Linked DNA regions of Homo sapiens. The protein of the gene in region 1 interacts with the protein of each later gene in a pairwise test. Each region holds a gene or a part of one and is shown on either strand. Other genes may lie near its edges. The genes, in order: TEX29 and C14orf180.

What was found.
Region 2: the proteins of TEX29 (region 1) and C14orf180 interact in binary tests that used the Homo sapiens proteins (3 or more experiments, as listed by UniProt).

The regions. Positions count from the first base shown.
Region 1 is NC_000013.11:111,327,142-111,330,947, forward strand, and holds part of TEX29 (testis-expressed protein 29), read left to right. Parts: intron 1-1,041; coding exon 1,042-1,152; intron 1,153-3,806.
Region 2 is NC_000014.9:104,585,973-104,589,778, reverse strand, and holds part of C14orf180 (nutritionally-regulated adipose and cardiac enriched protein homolog), read right to left. Parts: intron 3,365-3,806; 5' UTR 3,349-3,364; coding exon 3,238-3,348; intron 2,031-3,237; coding exon 1,901-2,030; intron 1,506-1,900; coding exon 1,470-1,505; intron 1,202-1,469; coding exon 996-1,201; coding exon of another isoform or gene 901-995; 3' UTR 1-900.

The DNA.
Region 1 (3,806 bases):
CAGCCGGTGACTTCAGCCTGCCCTGTGCACTCTGCCTTGGCAGGTGCGGCATCGCCTCGGCAGGGCTCCCGTGTCCATGATGCTTCTGACAGAGGATGAGGGCTGCAGCCGCAGCATTTGCAAACCTGGAATGGGGGTGTCTTGAGAAGGGGAACCTGAAAGACTAAATCAACCCTAAGGAACACAAATGGGGCTCCTCAAGGGTCAAGAAGGCCGGGCAGCTCCCCTCCCGGCCCCTGTCCCAGTGGAACAACTTACAGAGGGGCCAGGGAAGACCCCCAGTGGCTTGGGTGCAGCCTTGGCCTGGGGCATGGAGCCTGGCTTTGTGGGACTGCAGTCCACCCAGCAAAGGTCTCTGCGGGCACCCTGGGCCCTCACCTGCAGGAACCCCCTTCATCATCCAGCCCAGTCCCTCGGTGGCCCATGGCCGATCAAGGCAGCCACATCCCTCGGGGCTGAACATGTGTGAGGCTGCTGAACTCCTCTGGAAAGGGTCGTCTGCCAGGAGCTCTCCCCGCCCTGCTTCCTTTACCTCCCACGGCGCGCCGCACACTCATTGTCTTCCCTTTTTCTCCCTTTGGGTCAAAACTGGCATTAAACTTTCTGTCCTTTTGATTCAAGTTTTAAAATTCTGAAATAATCCTCAGGCCATGCTGCTAATTCTAACTCCTGTATGCTTAAGTGTGAAATAATTACACGTTCCCTCCCGAACTCCCAAGCAGCCATTGTGTGAGCCCCGCGCTTCTGTGGGCTCTGTCGTGCGCCGTGCCTGGCGCTGCTGCGCGGAAATGTATTATCTCCTAATCGTTAGAGGCCCCTGCATTATTCTGTGTAATTAACTTGACATTATTTTGCTCAGAAATTTAATTCATTCTGGATCTTAGTTTCAAATAAAGATTTGCAGGATGCGTAATTGAGAAAATAACAAAACCACAACACAAACCCACAGCTGCTCCCCACACCGGTTCCCAGGTTCTTTAGCGGAGAGCAGAGTGGCTTTGTTTTCGGGGGTGACACTTGTGTATGTCTGTGCTTTTGCAGTGTGTGACGTTCCTCTGTATGACATTTGTGACTACAACGTCTCCAGGGACCGATGCCAGGAGCTCGGGTGCTGCTTCTACGAAGGCGTCTGCTACAAGAAAGCGGTTCCCAGTGAGTAGACGCCCCGGCCACCCCGTGGCGGAAGCCGAGGTAGCTGGTGACCATGCCGACCACTGCCCTGCCTGTCTCCCTTCCTCGGGGTCTCTGTTTGCTGGAAACACCTTTGTATTGTTCTCTGGCCAACTCTTCTGCTCCGTCTTAGTGGGGACAGTAGACTTGGAGTGGGGTTTGGGCTGGAGGGCCTGTGAATGTGACGTAAGCCACCATAGGGGTTCCATTCCCAGATGGGCTGAGCAGGGCATGGACGGGGACAAATGGAGGCCCCCTTCATGGAGGAATTTGGCCATTCTGGGTGGTTGCAGAGGCTGGATTTGGGGAAATAGTGCTGCAGAAACATGGGGCGCCGGCAGGGCCCGGGCCAGTGGCCGGGTGTGGGGTGAGCCCATCAGGGTGGAGCGGACCTTGTCCACCAGGGGCTCTGTGAGCTTGGCCCTGACTGGGGATTCCGTGGGCTGCTTCAACGTCAGACTAGAAGCCAGACCAGACGTGAGGATCTGCTGGAAGCCCCTCAAGCAGCACGGGGTGAAGTGAGGACAACAGGCAACCAGTGGGTGGGTAAGGGCGCCGGAGGCGTTGCCACTCCCCATCCCCGTGAAGGCTTCCGGAGGGAGGCGCGCCCTTCAGAGGACCATGGCTAGTTGTAAAATGTGTTCGAAGGGAGGTGGGAGAAGGTTAAGAAACCAGGATGGCCTGCGCGTGAAGGGCGTTGGGCTCCCACCTCCTCAGCATATTCTCGCCTGTGAGTGCACTGGCCTGCGCCGCTGAGGTCTTCTCATTTCCAAACCCTCATCAAGGTCCACGTGAAGCTTCATGTGTTTCCTTGTCCTGTGGAGGCCCCTTTTGGAAATGAGGGTAAAGGGGCTCTTTGTGCTGCGTGGGGAGGGGTGGACAGCAGCACGGAGGGGAGCAGCCTGCACAGCACGCCCTCGGGAGGGAACAGTGCAGCCCTTACCGGTGGAGATGATGGACGTGGCTGATGAGCTCTCACAGCTCTAGGCTTCCTTGGAGATGAGTTCCAAACCCTCCCTGTCCTAAGCCACTCTTTTCTCCACCCCCACCACCCCAAAGTGAGTAAAGGCCCCTGGCTTTGTGCAGCTCAGGGCCACTTCTTCTTCCTTTTACTTCTTTCTCCTGCATTTCCCGCTAGACTGAGCCTTCAGAGACCAGGCACCAGGTCCTCTTCGTTCCCTGTATCTAGTAGGGCTTAGAAAGTCGGGAAACGTTAGTGACTGATGGGAATGAGTGACTGATGGAAATTTCCAAGTAGTGACCTGCTGGTGGAACCTAGCACAAGCTTGGCTGCTCACCGCTTGCAAAGCCTGTAACAAATGAAGGGAAAGTGACTTTATTTCCAAAGCTAGCAGTGGGGAAGTGGCTGACTTGCGCTTCCAACTTTAGGCTGGGAAGAGGGGCTTAAAAAGAGGCACTCAGAATGGGAGGCACATGGGAGGGGTGCTTCTACAAGGTCTGAGGGTCTCGTTCCAGTGGCTGTCGCAAGCCACAGCCCACCTGGAGCGGGAGGTGTCATCATCTTGATGGCTGGTTGTAGACTCACCGCCTTCAGGTGATCTCTGGCATTTTGCAGCTGGTTCTCTATGCTTGGTCTATCTCAAGATGAGCCCCTAGAACTTGTAAGTAAGCCCATAATTAAATACCAGCACACAGTTAGATAAATGTGCATGGGGCTAGGGGGCGCGTGGTGAGAAAGGGAGACCATGGTGTTGCAAAGAAAGTACATTTCAAGGCTATATTTTAAGACTAAGGAGAACAAAAGTTTTTTGCAGTAAGCTTTCTGCATCGTGAGACTAGGGGAAGAAGAGAAAAAGGAAAAAAAAAGTTTTAAAACTCATTTTCAGGCTACACTGTTTGATTACGTGGGGACTGCCCAGTCCTACAGACGTAAAGCCTTAAGCCAGCTCCTCTGAGATGAAAGGGATATTCTGGGCACAAAATCAGTCAAGAAAGAAAGTGCTGATGGGATTCTGGCTTGCTCCAGAGAGGGTGTCTGTCCTGCTTCGTGGTGAGGATTTGGCACCTCATCAAAAGAAGATGAATTTTCGCTCCTCAGAGACAAATGAGAGGTCACAATGGATACCACTGATAGTTGGGAAGGTTTTCTGATGACGACGGCTCCTGCAGATCCTGGCTTTAGAGACTCGGGACCAGACCCCTCGCTGTCCCAGCCTCCACTTCCAGGAGCCTCTGGGATTCCCAGGATCTCACGCCTTCCTCTGACTACAGATAAAATCGGTTGGAAATTGCTTCAGCTATTATTTTTACCAAGATACTATACCATAAAATTCACCTTTTAAAGTATACAATTCAGTGGCTTTTAGTATATTCACAGTTGTACAGTCATCACCACTAACTCCAGAACATTTGTACCACTCCAGAAAGAACCCTCACGCCCATTAGCAGTCGTGTCCTATCCTTCCCTCTCTCTGGCCCCTGGCAGCCACTCATCTGTCTATGGACTTCCGTATTATGGACATTTCATATAAATGGAACCACATGATTTGTGGTTCTTTCACTCACGTAGTTCTCAAGGTTCGTTCGTGTTGTAGTAGCTATCAGTACTTCCTTTCTGTTTATTGCGGAGTCATTGTCCACTGTATAGGTATGCCGCATTTTGTTGACCCATCTAT
Region 2 (3,806 bases), on another chromosome or scaffold:
CCGGGTGGATGGTCGGCCGTGCCCACCCGCCTCAGGCTAACCTCGAGGACGCTGGTCTGATTGTCCCTGTGTCTCTCCTGGGCAGTTCTGCCTGGTGTCTAACCGTGGGCCTCCCTGCTTTGTTCAGCCCTCCCCCCACGTAGGGTCTGGAGAGGCCCCTGGTGTTTGTCATCCACAGGGCTCCCTTCAGCTCTGCAATCCGGCGACAAAGCCACAACCACAGACGGTCTCCGGGACCCACAGGCCCCAGCTGGTGGGTGGTGCTGGCTGGCCCCGGGCTCAGCTGGGTGTGCCTGGCCTGCAGAGCTGGGCACAGATGGCTGTTCTGAAGGTCGGGGGTGTCTGGGCCCCTTGCTGTCCCCTCGGCTTCTACACCTGAAGCCGCCCCTGATGAGGGGTCCTTCCCTGGGGCCTCTCCAGACTCACGGGGCTGGGTAGGGGGGTCAGACCTGGGCTCAGAGGATGGCACCTCACATCAAAGGGACCCACCTTGACAACCAGACCCTTCCCTCCCCGTGGGGTTTCGAGGTCTGGATTCCCCACAAGCCATAATCGCAAAAGGCTGGGTTTGCCTCCTCCGAGCAGCCCCTTGAACACGGGCAGTGTGTCCCCCTCCTCAAGAGGGTGCACACGGTGATGGCCGGGCCAGGCCCTAGCAGCAGCAGGAGTTCCTGCTGGGACGAGGGAGGGGTCTTTGGGTGAGCCTGGGGAGCCTCAACTGTTAGCAGTCGAATCCTCTTTCTAATAAAATCTCACATGGACCCAACACAGGAGACAGGAGGGCTGTGCTGACTAGTGTGGCGGGGCCGCCTGCTGTGCCCCCCATGTCCGATCTCACGCCACGGGGTCCCCCTTTTCCTAGTTAGCCCTCAGGCAGCAGCCCCTTTTGGCCCCCATGATTCACCAAGCAGCAGGGCCAGGGCTCAGGCTGTCTCGGAGCCCCCGGAGTGCTTGAGCTCTCCTGGAAGCCCTGCCCGTCCTGCCCGTCCTGCCCGTCAGAGCCGCAGGAGGCCGCGCCAGCAGGTGAGGGCCACGTGCCGCAGGTGCAGGACAAGGCCGAGGAGCCGGGCCCGCAGGTCCTCCAGTGCCGTTGCCACGGGCTTGGCCCGGCCGCAGTATAGGCCCAGGGCCAGCACGAGCAGGACGCACACACACAGCTGCAGGAGCAGGGAGCCGCCGTGTGGCCTGGGCCGGCCGGGCACTGCGGCCAGAGGGCAGGCAGGGTCAGCGCCAGCCAGCGCGACCCTTCCCTGGAGGACTGGGGCTGGTGGGGAAGGGATGGGGAGATTCCACCCTGTCCATGCCCATGGCCCCTCCCTAGCCTCTTGGGGTCTCCTTGCAACAAGAGCTCCCCAACTGGGGACTCCTTAGAGGCCCTGGCCCTGTGACACCTCCCTCGGGGAGGGAGTGAGGGTGGGTGCACCCACGGAGGGGGCAGTGGGGCACAGGGATGTGGGCTCAGAACTCACCCCTGACAGTGGCTGTGGCGTTCTTGTCAGCAATGTCTGCGAAAGAGAATGGAGAGTCAGCTGGGGGCACCTGCCTCAGTCCATCGGGCGCCCCCGCCCTCTCGTCTCACCCTGCACCCCCGAAGGACCCTGAGACTATTCATCAGTGAGAGACCCAGGCCCAGCCGGTCCTGACACTTCCTCAAAGGGACAGTCATGATTTGAGAATCCGCCCTCATGTTCTCCTCCAGTTGCTGTTTCATGGACCGGGACTGTGTGTCCAGATGACCCCAGGGGCCCAGGTCTTACAGGGGTTGTGGCACTGAAGGCAGGTGGCCACGGCCCCCCCATGTCCTGGGCCCTGCCAGAGCTGTGTGGGTGTGGCCGGTGTCCCCGCCTCCCTCTGCTTGACTCCACCCTCTCCCAGCTGCTTGCTGCGGGTGCCCTCTTACAGTGGACGGTCACCGCTGGGGGTTCTCGGAACCACACGCGCCTCGAGGTCCTCTGGGGCTTGGCCTCTGGGCGGTGGTGCTCCGGCCGGCTCCGTTTCAGGATGGAGGGGGGGCACTTCCTGTTGTCCTCCTGGTGTGGGGGCGGGAAGCAGACTGGTGAGTCCCCGGCGGGAGGCCGCTGGTACCCAGGTCTGAGCCATGTGGGGCCCAGCAGCACCGTCCTGGAACCTGTACCCTGTCCTGGCTGGTGCGCTATGCTGGGCCTGTCACTTCCTGTAGGGTGAGGGGCAGCTCCTGGACAGGGACTGCAGGGCAGCCAGACTCAGCCTCAGGGGCCCAGGCAAGACAGGAGCCCCTCCTGACCCCGTCTCTTCACGCAAGTCCCCACTGAACCTCTCTTCGTCTGCCCGCTGTCTCGGATGCAGGCTGCTGGACAGGGTCCCCAGGACATGTGGACAGGGGGAGGGGGCTGCAATGGCAGAGGGGCTCTGGCTAAGGGGCCAGAGTTTGCAAGCTCTATGGGGCAGGGGCCGGGCCAGGGCCGTGAGGAGGGCTGGTTGGTGGCCTCGGCCTCCTTTTCCCTGGGGCCGAGCCTCCCAGGCTGCAGGCGGGGGCAGCTCCTACACATTTGCCTACCTGGGCCCTTTCTCTGCTGGTCTGCTCACGTGTATGGGCCCAGCCTGAGTCTGGAAGATGGAGTGGGAGTTTCGGGCTGCTGTGAACCTCAGCATCCTTGTCTGTGACATGGTGACAACTGGGGCTGAGGCACCCTGGGAGCCGGGCCAGCTCTGAGGTTGTTCCTGGCTGGGGCATTGCTCGCTGTACACAGCCTGCTGCTCGGCATCTGGCGAGGCTGCCCCGCGAGGGCGTGAGGCCTGCCCATGCTGAGTCTGGCCCAGCTCCTGCTGTGCCTGTGGCATGCCCCAGCCTGGCAGTGCCTCAGAGGCTGGATGGAGCCTCAGGGTCTGAGGTCTGGGCCCCTAACCCTAACACTGACCCTTGGTGACAGTCTTGACCTGTCCTCTCTCCACCCTCTTCCCTCCTCCAACACCCTCCTCCCTGAGCTGCCTCTTCCACAGCCCTCCATGGCTCCCACTTCCTCTGCCAAGCTGTGCCCCACCTGGGGGCCTCCAATCTCCTCTGCCAGACCAAATCCTTCAAGGCACCCATTGCCCCCCGCTGCTCCCCCCAGCCCTCAGTGATCCCCCTGCCCTCCTCCTATCACCCCCTGATTCCTGGGGTGGAGGATGGCCTTTCCACGTCTGTTGCTCCCTGCCCCCTCCAGCCCCCAGTGGAAGGCCAGCTTGCAGAAGCTGTGTCCCAGCGGCCCGCCTTACCCTCTCTGCCCTGCACACCCGCGGGCCCCACGCGGCCTCCTCATTCTTTCTGGTCTGACGTCGTGTCTCTGGCCGGGAGTCAGGGCTCACGGCTCCTGCTGCAGTCCTCATTTACTGGAACATGGTCCTAAGATAAGCAGAGACGTTATTTATTATTTACTGCACAAGTGGCACTCAGAGGAATGAAAATAAGAGGAGGAGAAAATTCTTTCCTGGAAGCCAGGCTGGCTTCCCGGGCTTGCGACCGGCCACGCTGTTGAGCAGACACCACTTTTCCTCTGTGGTGTCCCCAGTGCAGGTAAATCCTGTTCCCTGCTCGTTCAGAAATGCCATCGCAAGCAATTTCCTTTGCTGCCACGGTCTTCATAATTATCATCTTTAATGGCTGCATAATATTCCACTGGGCCGAGGTCCCGTCACTGAAAGTCACCCTCGATGATTGGGTATTCATGAGGGTTGCATTTTAGTATTGTCATTTGCAATGTTTGGAGGTCATGGATAAGGCTGCAAGAAACATCTTTGCTTTGTCTCCTTTCGGTAGCGGGAAGCCCTGGGGCTGGGGACTGGGA